Homo sapiens: one gene and its partner. The protein of the gene in region 1 interacts with the protein of each later gene in a pairwise test. Each region holds a gene or a part of one and is shown on either strand. Other genes may lie near its edges.

What was found. The genes of interacting proteins can lie anywhere in the genome.
Region 2: the proteins of PDZD4 (region 1) and APIP interact in a two-hybrid assay, tested with the Homo sapiens proteins (2 studies listed by BioGRID and IntAct).

The regions. Positions count from the first base shown.
Region 1 is NC_000023.11:153,826,627-153,836,258, reverse strand, and holds the start of PDZD4 (PDZ domain-containing protein 4), read left to right. Parts: upstream 1-5,714; 5' UTR 5,715-5,960; coding exon 5,961-6,020; intron 6,021-6,299; exon of another isoform or gene 6,300-6,526; intron 6,527-9,632.
Region 2 is NC_000011.10:34,880,427-34,886,160, forward strand, and holds the end of APIP (methylthioribulose-1-phosphate dehydratase), read right to left. Parts: intron 3,079-5,734; coding exon 2,911-3,078; intron 2,391-2,910; coding exon 2,291-2,390; 3' UTR 1,869-2,290; downstream 1-1,868. UniProt on the Homo sapiens protein: Catalyzes the dehydration of methylthioribulose-1-phosphate (MTRu-1-P) into 2,3-diketo-5-methylthiopentyl-1-phosphate (DK-MTP-1-P).

The DNA of each region.
Region 1 (9,632 bases):
CCGGGTTCAAGCAATTCTCCTGCCTCAGCCTCCTGAGTAGCTGGGATTACAGGCGCCTGCCACTGCGCCCGGCTAATTTTTTTGAATTTTTAATGGAGACGGGGTTTCACCATGTTGGCCAGGCTGGTCTTGAACTCCTGACCTTGTGATCTGCCCGCCTCGGCCTCCCAAAGTGCTGGGATTACAGACTTGAGCCACCTCGCCCAGCCTTATTGATTTACTTTTTTGAGATGGAGTCTCTGCCACACAGGCTGGAGTGCAGTGGCACAATCTCGGCTCACTGCAACCTCCACCTCCCAGGTTCAAGTGATTGTCCTGCCTCAGCCTTCTGAGTAGCTGGGATCACAGGCATGCACCACCACATCTGGCTATTTTTTTTTTGTATTTTTGTTAGAGACTGGCTTTCACCATGTTGACCAGGCTGGTCTCGAACTTCTGACCTTAGGTGATCCGCCCACCTCGGCCTCCCAAAGTGTTGGCCACCGCGCACGGCCTTAGCTTATTTTCTAAACAGAAAATAAAACGAAAGAGGGCCTTGGGTGGACAAGTGTTGATGGATAATGATAATCTGGCTCTGTCAACTTGAAGCAACAACAACGAAAGACAGAAGGAAAATACCACGTTCATATGAGAACATGAGAAGCCCTCCGGGGCCCTGCCCATCTGAAAAAATGGCGTAGTAGGCCACGTGCAGGTGGCTCACACCTGTAATCCCAGCACTTTGAGAGGTTGAGGTAGGTGGATCACCTGAGGTCAGGAGTTCAAGACCAGTCTGGCCAACATGGTGAAACGCCGTCTCTACTAAAAATACAAAAATTAGCTGGGTGTGGTGGCAGGTGCCTGTAATCCCAGCAGCTAGGGAGGCTGAGGCAGGAGAATCTCTTGAACCCGGGAGGCGGAGGTTGCAATGAGCCAAGATTGTGCCACTGCACTCCAGCCTGGGTGACACAGCGAGACTCTGTCTCAAAAGAAAGAAAGAAAGAAAAAAAAAGTGTAGCAGAAATAGACCAAAGAGCAAAGGCAATTCAATGGAGAAACGGTAGCCTTCCCAGCAAATGGTGCTGGAACAACTGGACATCCACATGGAAAAATGAACCTAGGCACAGACTGCTGTGGCTTGAAGGTATGTGGCCTTCCAAAATTCATATGCTGAAACCTAATTATCAAGATGATGGTATCGCAGGGTGGGGCCTTTGAGAGGTGATTCGGTCATGAGGGCTCTACTCTCATGAACAGGATTAGTGCCCTGATAAAAGAGGCTTCATGCAGTGGTCTTGCTTTACTCCCCTTTTCCAACACGTAAGGACATCATGAGAAGATATCATTGATGGAACAGACCTTCACCAGGCATGGAACCAGTTGGCACTGTGATCTTGGGCTTCCCAGCCTCCAGAACTGTGAGAAAAATGATCTGAGACAGACCTTCCATCCTTCACAAACATTATCTCAAAACAGATCATGGACTCAAATGTAAAACACAAAACTATCGAATCCTAGAGGATAACATGGGAACATCAGGTGACACTGGGTTTGGTGATGACTTCTTTAGATACAAGGCCAACAGCACGACCCATGGAGAGAGAGAAAACAAAGCAGCAAACTCAGCTCATGGCCAAGTAAGGAAAGGGCAACCCGGTTACTCCAGGCCAAGGCTCCCAGGAGAAGGGAGCTGGACAGAGTTTCTGGGTCGTGGTCTGGCTTCAGCCTCCCTGACAGTCCCTTCTGGAAAAGCCAGTGGGCAAGGTCGTTAGAGACTCCTGGGAAACATGGGTCCCCACTCACACATCTGACACGGCTGGGCTGGGGACTGGGGATTGCACGCATCCAGTGGAAAAAATACAGTTGGCCTTCATATCCGTGGGTTTCACATCTGAGGATTCAACTGGCCATGGATGGAAAACACTTGAAAAATAAAAAATAGCAATACAACAATAAAGATAATACAAATTAAAAAACAAATCAGGCCGGGCACAGGGGCTCATGCCTGTAATCCCAGCACTTTGGGAGGCCGAGTTGGGCGGATCACGAGGTCAGGAGATCGAGACCATCCTGGCTAACACGGTGAAACCCTGTCTCTACTAAAAATACAAAAAATTAGCCGGGCATGGTGACAGGCACCTGTAGTCCCAGCTACTAGGGAGGCTGAGGTGGGAGAATGGTGTGAACCCGGGAGGCGGAGCTTGCAGTGAGCCGAGATCGCGCCACTGCACTCCAGCCTGGGCGACAGAGTGAGACTCCATCTCAAAAAAAAAAAAAAAAAAAAAAAAAAATCATTACACTATAACTGTTTATGTAACACTGACATTGCATCCGGTAATACAAGTAATCTAGAGAAGATTTAAAGCATTAGAGAGGATGAGCAAAGGTCCTATGCAAATAGTATGTCATTTTAGATCAGGGATTTGGGTGTCCATGGATTTTGGTATCCCCAGTAGGGGGAAGCCTGGAACCCATGCCCCGTGGACACCGAAGGACAACTGTAGTCAGAAGGGTGGGATCTTCTGTGTGTCCTGCTTCTAAGAGCACCATGGCCTTTTTGCAGCTCTCTATGGTGGGTCAGAGTGGAGCCCTTCTGTGGGGTGTCATGGCATCCTCAGTGGGTCCAAGCTCTGGGACGTGGAGGGAGAGCAGGGACCTACCTCATCAGCACAGAGTAAGATAGGACCCATCCAGATAGGAATCTGGGCCAGACTCACCTGGGTACCCATCTTCAGGTTAAAGAATGCTGGAGTGCCCCGGGGAGCATGGTGGTGCCGCCCTCACCCTGTCTCTATCTTGAGCGCAATCGCCCGCTCCAGCCTGACTGCTGTGCTGGGATGTCACTGCACTGTCCTCAAGCTGCACTGTCAAGCGCAGTAACTGCCCCATGATCAGCTGTCTCTCATGTCCTTCCTCCCGGACGCTCTCCCAGGGCTGTATATTTGTTAGGGTTTTCTGATTACAGGGAGAAGCTGACTCTAACTTTAGCAAGAAAATGGATTTATCTGGCATGATGCTGGGTAGATCACCAAACTGGTGGAATGTCTAATGGAGCGGGGTTTCGGACACACAGGCGAGACCGGTTCTTTTTTTGTTTTGTTGTTTTAGAGACTGAGTCTCACTCTGTGGCCCCGGCTGGAGTGCAGTGGTGCAACCACAGCTCCTTGTAACATTGAATTCCTGGGGCCAGCCATCCTCCCGCCTCAGCCTCCTGAGTAGCTGGGACTACAGGTGCGTGCCACCACGCCCGGCTAACTGAGACCTGTTTTGAGTGGGATCCAGAGCAAGAAAGGACCCTGCAGGAGGACTGGGCTGCGGGGCAAGCTGCTCTGCCACCAGCAGCGAGAGCCCGCCAACCTAACGGTGCTGGAGGGATCTGTCCATGGTAGGCCAGGATGCTGTGCGGAACCCTCAGGAAGCCTCAATGGAAGGATCCCAGCAGGGACCATAGAGGCTGTGGCAGGGCCACACCTTCGGTGGCAGAGCTACTCACTCACCACTGAAAAAAGCATAGCTGTGGCCATGCTACTGGGACCTAGGAGAGACTTACAGCCTGATCATGGGGCATCCAGGGCCTGTGTGACCCAAGCCACCCATTGTGAACTGAATATTGAGGTGGAGATGGCACATTGAGGCCCAGGCAGTCCAGACCCCCGGTCACCCGGCTCTTTCACACTGGTATGCCCCTTCAGCTCACACCTATGGCCTCATGGGAGGTGGTGATGGGGTGTCCCCATGACTGACTCAGACCCAGGTCCTCGACTGGTCATCTCATGTCACCACTAGGAAAAACACCTGCTGTCACACTGAGGCCCTTTGCAGGGTGGCCCTGAGAGACAGCAGTGAGGGGACATCCTCTAGGGGAGCAAGACACTAGGTTGTCTACTTTGTAGAGGGAGAAATGGCCTGAGATGAAGGTGTCCATGACCCCCGGGCAGTGGAAAATGGCTGGGCTGACTGGTCAGGGACCCGGGTGGAGGAAGATTGGAAGAAGAGACAGGTTTGGCGAAGAGGTACCTACGGGAGTGCTCAGGGAGAGTGTGGGGCCCCGTGCTCGTCTTCGCGCCCATGCCGCTGGGGAGCATGCAGTGTGGAGGGGGCGCGCCAGAAGCTAGCGAACAGAGGGGACCATCTGGTGGAGGTCAGCCAGCTTCTCCCCAGGATGCGATGGACCCACGATGCCAGTGGCCATGGTGGGAGGGCTGGAGGCTCTGTATAAGCCCAACGGCAAGGGCTTCCTCTTACCACGGCTCATCTAGACACTGCCGCTAGTGAATGTTCTTCCATCCACCAGCTGCAGAGACCGATGCTGAGCCCTCAATATGACGCCATTCCTCAAGACTAGCCAGCCATTGGGTGGCAGGTTGCAACCTGCACACCAGCCCTTGTCTCAAGTTCTGCTTTCTGGGAGAAGCCCTGGATAAGAAACTCGCCTCTCTTCTCCACATTCTGGGCAGGCCCGCCATTCTTGATTTCTCTTCTAACGAGGAGCCAGGGAGGAAAGGAAGGGCTCCGATTCAACAGCCCCGTGTGGCTGGGGGTTCCCTCACTTGCCCAAACCTGGAAATGAAGCATGTAGCAATTTCTCCAAGTGATCTCCTGCAGCCGGGGCAGCCTCTGGGAACGCAGACTTCCACCCGCTGCTGCTTTCCAGGCAAAGGCCTTCTCCCTCCAGGCTTGTCCAAGAAGACGGGGAGGTGGTGGGAGAGAAGAGGAAGAGATGGAAGGGCTGTGAAAGCGGGGACCGGGTGAGGGCTGGGGCTGAGGAACAGGTAGGCGGCGGGCCCAGGCTGGCCAGTGCTGTGTGCAGGCCCGGGTCCCAAGGCCTCCGAGGCCACTCTCCCCACGACCCACCCCCTCCCCACGCTTCGCTCATCCTTTTTTCTTTCTCTCTTTCTTTTCTTTCCTCCCTTTCTCTCTTTCTTTCTTGTTTTAAACAAAGGTGTCCGTTTCAAAGACAGCAGGGAATGGCTGAGTTGAAGGAGGGATGCAGTCATTTAAGGCGAAGCCCGAGGAAGGAGCAGAGGCGTGAGGGCTGCTGCGTCCAAGACCGGGGAGAGGGGCTGAAATCGCGGACTCTCTCTGGGGGACCCAGGAGACTGCTCCTCCTGGCAGGACCCCTCTCTCCCAGAGCGGCATCGCGCAGACAACGCGCCTGGTGCCCGCCCCTCAGGACCGGACGCCGGGTGTCGTGGGGTGCCTAGGACCCCCGCCCGCTTCCGTCGAGCGCCCGCCCCCGGCTTCCCGCGCCGGCTCCAGCGCCCCCGCCGCTCCCTCCCGCAGCCGGCCCCGCTCCCCTCCCCGCCCCTCCCGGCGCGCGTGCGCCCCGTGCCCGCGCCCCTCCCCCGCCGCCGTGGGCGCGCTCGCGTGCCCGTCGTCCCGGGCGGGAGCTGGAGACGGCCAGCGGCTGCTGGACGAAGAGCGGGCGCCGGGAGCTCCGAGAGCGCGGCCGGGCGAGGCGGGAGCGCGGGCGCTGGCCTGGCCGCGGGCGGGGGCCGCCGCCGCGCCGCTGCCCCCCTGTCGCGGGCCGGGCCGCGGCGCCGAGCGCGAGGGCCGGGCTCCCGGGGCTGGCGGCCATGGGCAGGAGCCGGAGGCGGCAGCGGCAGCGGCGGGCCCCGCGGGCGGGGAGGCGCGCGGCCCACGGCCCCTGACGGCCCCTGGCGGCCCGGCGCGCCCCCGCGCTCCCTGGGGGGCCGTAGCCTGGCAACGCCCGGCGCGCCCGCCCATCCCCCGCTGCCCTTTTTCTCCTGGCCGGGTGCGAGGGAGCATGCCCGCGCCTGGCCTCGGCCAGCGAAGAGTTAACCTGAGGGGCGAGCCGCTGCCCCCACCTCGGGGGCGTGCCCCCCTCCCCCGCTAGGCGGCCCGCCCCCCGCGCCAGGGTATGGCCCCTGGCCCCGGCCCGGGACCCGAGGTCCCGCGCCCGGGTCAGTGAAAGGCGTCTTCCCGTTCCCGCCCTCCGCCTCCTCTCGCCGGCCAGCAACATGGGATGTAATATGTGCGTGGTCCAGAAACCGGAGGAGCAGTACAAAGTGATGCTGCAGGTAGGGCCGCCGGCGCTGCGGCGGGGGCGCGGCCCTCCGCGGGGAGGAGCGGGCCAGTGGGGAGGCCCGGAGCGGCGGGCGTGGGAGAGCGGGAGGGCTCGAGGAGGACAAGGTAGGGAGCCGTCCGCACCCTCCCATCCTGGGGCTGTTGGGTGTTGGCGCTCCGTGGGAACCAGCCACGGGTGGGGTGGGAAGTTGGGGTTGGCCCGGGTGGGGCGCGCTTCCGTCCCGGGAGGCGCGGTGCGGCGGGCGCGGGATGGAGGTTGCATAGCAACGAGCGCAGTTCCCCGCACACGCTCTCCCCGCAGGACCCAGGGCGGGGGAGGGAGCCAGGCTCCCGCCGTGCGGGGGGCGCCGAATCTAGATCCCGGCGGGCCTGGAGCGTGGGAGTGCGTGGGCGTCCCCGGGCGCGGTCCAAGTCCGTCCGGGGGCTGGGTGCCCACCCCGACACCCACTCCCGCCTGGCCCTGCCCGAACGATGGGCTCCCGGGCCTTAGGCGTCTCGGGTGAGTGGGCGCCGCCGGGATCAGCGGGTTGGGCTCTCTGCGGGTGGCAGTGCCTGGCCGGGCTTTGCGGGGCGTGGACCAGCAGGGCCCCGCGGGGAGGGAAGGAGACGCGGGGCCCGGAGCTCGGACCTGGAGCCCAGCCCCGCGGCCCGGAACGGGGCTTCTTGCCTGTGCGTGGCGTGACTACGTGAGTGCGTTCCTGTGCCCCGTCTCTGTGTGCGCGGAGGCTCCCCCGGCCCCGCATTTGTGTACTTTCTGTGTGCACCCTGCAGACTGTCTAGAGAAATGTCCCGGATGCTGTGGGCTGAGACCTCCTAGGGCTAAGTGGAGGGAGGTCAAGGTCAAGGCACCCAGGAGCAGACAGGGCTCAGACAGGTATGCGTTTAGTGGCCTGGATTCAACTCCCGGGTTTATTGGTCTGGACTGGGAAGGAATCAAGTGCTTTGCAGGAGGGGTGTTGGCTTGGGAGAACGTGGGGGAACCCGTGCAGGGATCGGCGAGAACTCCGGGGCGGGGGCGGGGGCGGGGGAAGGAGGGGCTGGGCACGGGGGAGAATTCCCAGGAATCCGGGGACTGACTTCACGCTGTGAGCCGAGCTCCTCTGGCCACCTGGTGCGGGAGCCGAGGGGCAGGGCGGGGACGCAAATCTTGCCCCACCCTGGCGGAGCTCCTGGTCCTCTCTCCCCGGCCCTTCTCCGGGGGTGCGCGGGGCCCTCGGCTTCTCCCGTTCGCTGTCCTCCGCCTTCTTCCCTCTCAGTTCCCGGCTGCCACTCCTCGTCTCTTGTTCCCGCTGTTTGGAAACCTTGTGTGGCCATTGCCAGCCCCCTAGCGGGATAGGAATGCGACCGAGAGGGCGTCCTGTGGAATCCGTGTTGGATTCCAGGGCTGGGATGGTTGGTTGACGGGGACTCTGGATCCCATCCTCCTGCTTCCTTTTCGGGAGTCATTCCATCAAACGGCAAGCGATTTCTCCAAGCGATTCCTCCGGGGCCGTTTTGACTTTCCTGGAGAAGGATTGGTGTCGCACTTCATTTAAGGCCAACCTCGTGGGGACGTGTGGATAGGGGAGAGCGACCCGAGCTGCACCCCAGGCCTGAAATGAGCCATGGGACGACACCGGTAGCCCTTGGGGCTCCCCACAGCCCTCCGGGAAGGCCTCGGCAGGTCGGGCTGGGCCTGCCTTCAGGGAGGTGAACTTGGGTGGGCCCTCCCTGCTCTGCGCCCTAAGCTCTCCTTCATGGAAGGGACTTGCCCACCCCAAGGAGACCCGCCAGGAGGAGGGCCACTGCCGCATGCGCCCTCTGTGCGCTTTCCTGCTGGGCTCCCTTTGAAACCGTGGGAGTTTGGCTGCAAACTTTCACTTTCTACATTCCTCCTTGGCCCAATCAAAGCCGGGATTTTACGAGGAGAACCATCCTTCACAACTAAGGGAAAACAAGAGGACTGAAAAAAGTAGATACGGAAAGCAGTGCAAGCCATGAGCTGTCCCAGGGGACTGCGCTTCTGGGGGTGGACGCATCACCAGGTCCCAGCCTCTTCAGAGGAGAAGGAGCTTTTGTTCCAAAAGACAGGTCAGCTTCTGGGACCCCGTGCCTGCCTCCCGGCCTCCTTAAACACGGGTGCTCCCCCATCTTTAGGGGGCACTTCTCCCTGTCCCCCCTGAGTAACCTCGTCCGCACCTTGTCAGGGTGAGGCACTTCATGGGCCTGATTTTCAGAAAGAAGCACATGTGCATCTGCAGCGCCTTCCATCTACAATCCACAGAGGCCTGGGATCCCCAGGCCAGGAACCCCCAAGTCTCTAGCCTAGCCTTGTGTTCCAAGCCATTTTCTGCCAATGACTCACAACACTTCCAAAATTACAGCTGTATTGAGCTATCATTCTCCTACTGCACAACTTACCCTTTCAAAGTGTACAAGTCAGTGGTTTTTAGTATACTCACAAGGTTGTGCAGCCCACACCAGTAATTCCAGAACGTTTTCATCACCCCAAAAGAAACCCTGCACTCCTTAGCAATCACATCCCCATTTCTCCCTCAAACTTCCTAGCCCCTGGCACCCACCAATCTACTTCCTGTCTCTATGGATTTGTTTATTCTAAACATTTCATAGAAACTGACCTTTTGTGTCTGGCTTTCATTAATCATAATGTTTTCAAGGTTCATCCATGTATCAATAGTCAATTTCTTTTTATTGCCAAATAATATTTCATTTTGTGATATACAACATATTTATCCATTCGTCAGTTGATGAGCATTTGGGGTGCTTCCACCCTTGGGCTGTTGTGAATAGCGCTGCTGTGAACACTGGTCTACTTGTATCTGTTTGAGTCCTTGCTTTTAATTCTTTGGAGTGTGTGCCTGTAGCCATTGAACTGTTTTCCACAGTGGCTGGAACCAGTTTACATTCCCACCAGCAACATATAAGGGTTCCAATTTCTCTATATCTTTGCCAACAGTTGTTATTTTCTGGGTTTTTGTTATGGCCGTCCTGCTGGGTGTGAAGTGGTATCTCATTGTGATTTTGATTTGCACTTCCTGTTAGCTAAATGATGAGCACCTTTTCTTGTGCTTGTTGGCCATTTGTGGATCTTCTTTAGAAAAATGTCTGTTCTTAAGCCAGCGCCACACTGCTTTCATTACTGCAGCTTTGTAGTAAGTTTTGAAGTAAGGAAATGAGAGTCCTCCAACTTTGTACGTCTTTTTCAAGACTGTTTTGTCTATTCTAAGTCCCTCAAGTTTCCATATTAATTTCAGGATCAGGTTGTTAATTTCTGGAAAGAAGCCAGTTGGCATTTTGATAGAGATTGCATCAAATTTGTGGATCAATTTGGGTAGTATTGTTCATGAGCATGGGGTGCGTTTTCCATTTATTTAGGTCTTTAATTTCTTTACATGATGTTTTGCACTTTTGTTTAAGTTTATTCATGAGTATTTTCTTTATGATGCTATCATAAATGGAATCGTTTTCTTAATTTTACTTTCAGCCTTCTCATTGCTACTGTATAGAAATACAATTGATTGGCTGAGCGTGTTGGCTCACACCTGTAATCCCAGCACTTTGGGAGGCCAAGGCGGGTGGCTCACCTGTGCTTAGGAGTTCAAGAC
Region 2 (5,734 bases), on another chromosome or scaffold:
TGCCTGCTTCCCCCTCCCTCATTCACTGAACACCTATGTGGCAGGCACTGAGGATTAGCTCCCAGCCTGGATTTGTATTCATCTTTGGACCTTGGCTCCTAGCAGTCACACAGGAGGGATCATATTCTTAAAAAAAAAGGATATTAACTAGGGGATACAGCCTTCCACCAGCTGTTCCCCTACCTCTAAAGCAGGTTTTGCAATCTTTTCTGCACTCCCAGGAAAGAAATATACAACTGGAGATGTGCTGCTGCTGCTGTATAGTTTAAATGGTTTACCTGCATGACAATTACTTTGAAGATAGCTAGGTGAGGGGTTTTTAGGAAAGGAAGTTTATATTTTGAGTGCATACATAGTATATGACAGGTACTGTGTTAAGAAGTTTACCTGTTTTCTCTTATTTAAATTCTACATATTTATTATTCCTATCTGAGCCTCAATTTTCTCATCTAAGAAAATAGGTACAATATCTATCTCAAAAGACTATTATGAGGATTAAAAGGGATTTTAAAAAACACTAATATTTATTGAACATCTACACTGGATTAAGCATTGTGGTTTGTTCCTCCACATACTTTATCTTATTCATTAGCTGCATTTTAAAATGAGGAAAATGAAATTAACCAGAGGTGGCTAAAACTATTTTTCCCCAGTGGAAGAACCTCCGCCAAGAATCCAGAAAACAGGCTGGGGGCAGTGGCTCATGCCTGTAATCACAGCACTTTGGGAGGCCGAGGTGGGCGGATCATTTGAGGCCAGGAGTTTGAGACCAGTCTGGCCAACATGGCGAAACCCTGTCTCTACTAAAATACAAAAATTAGCCGGGGGTGGTAGCATGCCTGTGATCCCAGCTACTTGGGAGGCTGAGGCAGGAGAATCGCTTGAACCCAGGAGATGGAGGTTGCAGTAAGCCAAGATGGTGCTACTGCACTCCAGCCTGGGTGACAGAGCAAGACTGTCACAAAAAAAAAAAAAAAAAAAAAAGAAAAAACAAACAAACCCAGATACAGGCAAGGTTGCAGGGAAAAGGGAACCCTTACATAGTGTTGGTAGGAGTGCAAATTAGTTCAAACATTGTGGAAAGCAGTATGGCAATTCCTCAAAGAGCTAAAAGCAGAACAACCATTTGACCCAGCAATCCTATTATTACTGGGTATATACCTGAAGGAATATAAAGCATTCTACCATAACGACACATGCACACAAATGTTCACTGCAGCACTATTCACAAGAGTAAAGACACGGAATCAACCTAAATGCCCATCAGTGACAGAATGGATAAGGAAAATATGGTACATATACACCATGGAATATTATGCAGCCATAGAAAAGAACAAGATTATGTCTTTTGCGGGAACATGGATGGAGCTGGAGGCTATTATTCTTAGCAAACTAACACAGTAACAGAAAACCAAATACTGCATGTTCTCACTTCTAAGTGGGAGCTAAATGGCAATAACTTATGACTACAAAGAAGGAAACAACAGACACTGGGGTCTACTTGATGGCGGAGGGTGGGAGGAGGAAGAAGAGCATAAAAGATAACTATTGGATACTGAACTTAATACCCGGGTGATGTAATAATATGTACAACAAACCCCTGTGACATGTGTTTGTCTATGTAACAAACCTTCATGTGGGCCCCCAAACCTAAAATTTAAAACAATTTTAAAGAAAGGACTTTCTGATTACATCATCGGTTTGATCAAGATTTGTTTGGTTAAGGGAATTTGAGTTGATACCACCTGACCTGAATTTCACAACTGATCCCAATATAAAATGAGTGTCCTGTTGTAGACCACAGGGAAACACTAAAGCTAATAGGGGAAATCTATAAAATTATTTTGACATTAACATTGAGGGATAAATTTGGACTTAATGTTTCATATTTATTTTCTGACACCAACATTAAAACAAGAGAATGCTCATTCCACAATGAGGAAATTTTCTAATGAATTTTATTATCACCAGCATCTTTAAAAATTAAGAGGAATTCTCTGAGAGTATATATAAAAAAGAAATTAAAGGCAAATATTTTGCTGTTAAGGATTTAAAAATAAACAGAAACATAGAGTATAAAATTTTCATTTCACTGTGCCCTCATTTAAAATTATAAGAATATAAGCAAATAACATCCAATGTCAGAAGAGATTCAGGGTGACCATTTGCAGTATTTAGTGGCAAATTAGTAGCATCATGAAAAATTTCAATTCATTTAAAAAAATAGCTTTCATTTAAATAATAATTACGTTTAGCTTTATCTCTGTATATAATTAGACTTTCTTTTGGCTTAGACAATTCCATTTTCTCCAACTGGGAGCTGTGAAGGATCAAGTCCTACTTTCTTCATTGATACGGCAATATCAAATAAATAGTCATAACACTCACACCTGTAAAAGAAAAAGCAAAAAGAACCAGTGTTTATCGAAACAGAGTTCTCCAATCCTAAAGAATCACATTTCTCCTCTCTTGCAGTTAACTCTGCTTTGTTCCTAGTATGTATTTTCTCTCAATTCTAGGCCAAAATTCTATTTTTCCCTCAACATTTTTAAAACACAGAAAGGAATCATATTAAGTCATGCAACAATATTACATACCTCTCAGGAAATAAAAGAGAGTTTAAAATATACTGCCTACATAAATTTACATTTTTTTTAAACTAGATGTCACTTTCTGAAATAGAACTTTTGTAACTTGGGATCTGTGTCTTCTTCCTCTATCAACATTCCTAGAGCCTTGCCAAACAACAGCTCATCCAATCAATACTTCTTCATGAATGGATACATAATAAAAATAAAGTATCTACAAATAATGATAAACAATTTAAATTTAAACCAACTGACATACTTTGTTTTCCTTCACATTTAGCGGGTGGTAACTTGTTCCCCATGTTCTCTGATTTACACTCACATGGTTTTGGCCTTCTCCCATGTTTCCCCCCACACATATACTCCATGACGTCTGACCAGTACTGCACAGGAGTCTGGGTATTCATTCATTGCATGAGCCATTCTATCTTTGAGGTCTTTCTCCTCAGGTGTATTCTCAATAATGGGTACCACTAACATATCATCATATCTGTAAGACAAAACAAGCCATTTTTTTCCATTAAAACAAATCAAGCATTGATATGTATACAACATGTAATTTTTTCAAGTAACCAGTTAGACATGCTGTTTGTGTCTGAAAAGCCACTCCAAATTATGAACAGGATGTTGCGTGTTATTCTGTGTACCTTGTATAAACATCTCTATCAAAAGGTACCTTGGGAATGTGGCAGGCTTGGTCTAATCCTAAGCCTAAGTGGTGGAAATTTGTAAAATATACCAAAACCTAACAAAGAAATCATCAAGATCATATAAATGTTTCCTTGAAGCAGGGACAATCATAATATTTATACAAGGAGATGGCAAATGATATATTTCAGAATCAGAAGCATAGAAAAGATTAAAAATTGAATTATATATTAAGAATTTCCCAATTAATACAAAATCACTGTATTTCATTTCTGCAGAATCCCAAAGTATCTGAGATAGGCAAATCAAAAAACACAAGCATGGTTTGTGGCACTAGGACAGCAAGAATGTTCTGGAGATAACTCTTAAAGGTACGACGCTTTCAGAACATTCTCAAATCTGTAGCATTAGAACTTCTTTTACTTCCACTGTCCTCTCAGGAAATACATGTGATGAAATCAGAATGTAATATTTAAACACATAATTGTCACTGGCAAAATTAAGTCTATTCTTGCAAAAACTCAGATAAGCTTTCCTTTTTACATGAATTTCTCTTGTTTTGTTAATGTAACATCTGCTTTTTCACTACTTCTATAGTGCTAAAAACTTAAAAAAAAAAGTTCTAGCTAAAGTATTCTGCAATTGCTACTGTAGGGCAAGCACAGACTAAGTAGTCATCATGTGACTGATAACTTGGCCAACCATTATCATTAAGAGTATAGAGTTGCCCATCACTTCACTTAAGTAAAACAGAGGTAATTATAGACTATCCTTAACTATGGCTAGGTGCATTGGCTCATAGCTATAATCCCAGCACTTTGGGAAGCCAAGGCAGATGGACTGTTTGAGCTCATGAATTTAAAACCAGCCTGGCCAACATGGTGAAACCCCATCTGTACAAAAAATACAAAAATCAGCCAGGTATGGTGGTGCATGCCTGTAGTCCCACCTACTCGGAAGACTGAGGTGAGAGAATGGCTTGAGCCTGGGAGGCGGAGGTTGCATAAGACAAGATCGAGACACTACACTCTAGCCTTGGCGACAGAGCCAGACTTAGTCTCAAAAAAAAAAGAAAAAAGTATCCTTAAATATTGAAGGAATGAATTGCTAGTCTCAAATCTTTCCTAATATTGGCCGAGAGAACCATAAACATATTTTTCTCTAGCATGCACTCAATAGTCAGAAATATTTTCAGGAGCAAAATAATTTCACAGCAAAGTAAGAACTGAAAGCGAATTCAAGCCAGTCCTCCCACTTTACAAACATGACACTGATCCAGACAAGTTAAATGAGAAAGAGAGCCAGGATAGCCCTTTGACCCTCAAAGAGTATTGTTTTCACTGTACCATAGAGACATTGCTTCTGAAAGGGAGTACAATTATAATATAAAGTTATGTATATGTATACATTATACAACTATAATATATGTATACATAGTATACATGTATATTATATATATTATATATACCTATATAATGTATACCTATATATGTATAGGTATACATGTATAACTATATATGTATATATATACCTATATAACTATATATGTATATTATATATGTATAGTTATACATGTATATATAACTATACATATATAGGTGTATATATATACATATAACTATACATATAAAGGTATATATATACACATATATAGGTATATACATATACATCAATGTCAGACCACAGATATGATGGTGGTCCTATAAGATTATAATGGAGCTGAAAAACTCCATTATACCTGCACAGACCTGGTGGACTGAACAAAGGGGGCGAACGTGGGAATAAAAGATAAAAACAAGAGAGTACGTTTGGAAGAAGAGGTCGGGGGCACCTTGCCTCTAGTGGACAAGGGCCCCGAGCTGTACACAGCCCTCCGTATTTATTGGTAAAAGAGATAACGAGAAATGGGGGGCAATTGTCGGGCAATTGTCAGTCGGCCACTTTGGTTCACAGCAGGCTTGCAAGACTGCATCCTTTGAACAATAGGCTCTAGATTTCTCAATGGATAACTTCAAGGAGCCCGGTGCCAGGGAGTGATGTCCCTCAGCAAACCTTTTGGTGGCAGGCGCAGTGTGAGTTTGCTCACATCCTGCATTCATGATAAACAGTTTGCTGTTTGATCATATAGCCTCCAGTGGAATGCTGAGTTGATCACGATCCCTTTGGCCTTTTTGGCTCTCAACAACTCCTATCGCCTAATGACCGCATAGCTGTCATAGGGTCACAGCACAACATATTATGCAAATGTCTGTGGTGATGCTGGTGTAAACAAACCTACTGTGCTGCTAGCTGTATAAAAGTACAGCACATACAATTATTACAGTATGTAATACGTGATGATAATGACTATGTTAGTAGTTTATGTATTTATTACTCTATAATTTTAAAACACTATTTTAGGGTGTACTCCTTCTACTTATATGGTTTTTAAAAAGTTAACTGTAAAGCAGCCTCGGGCAGGTCCTTCAGGAGGTATTCCGGAAGAAGGCACTGTTAGT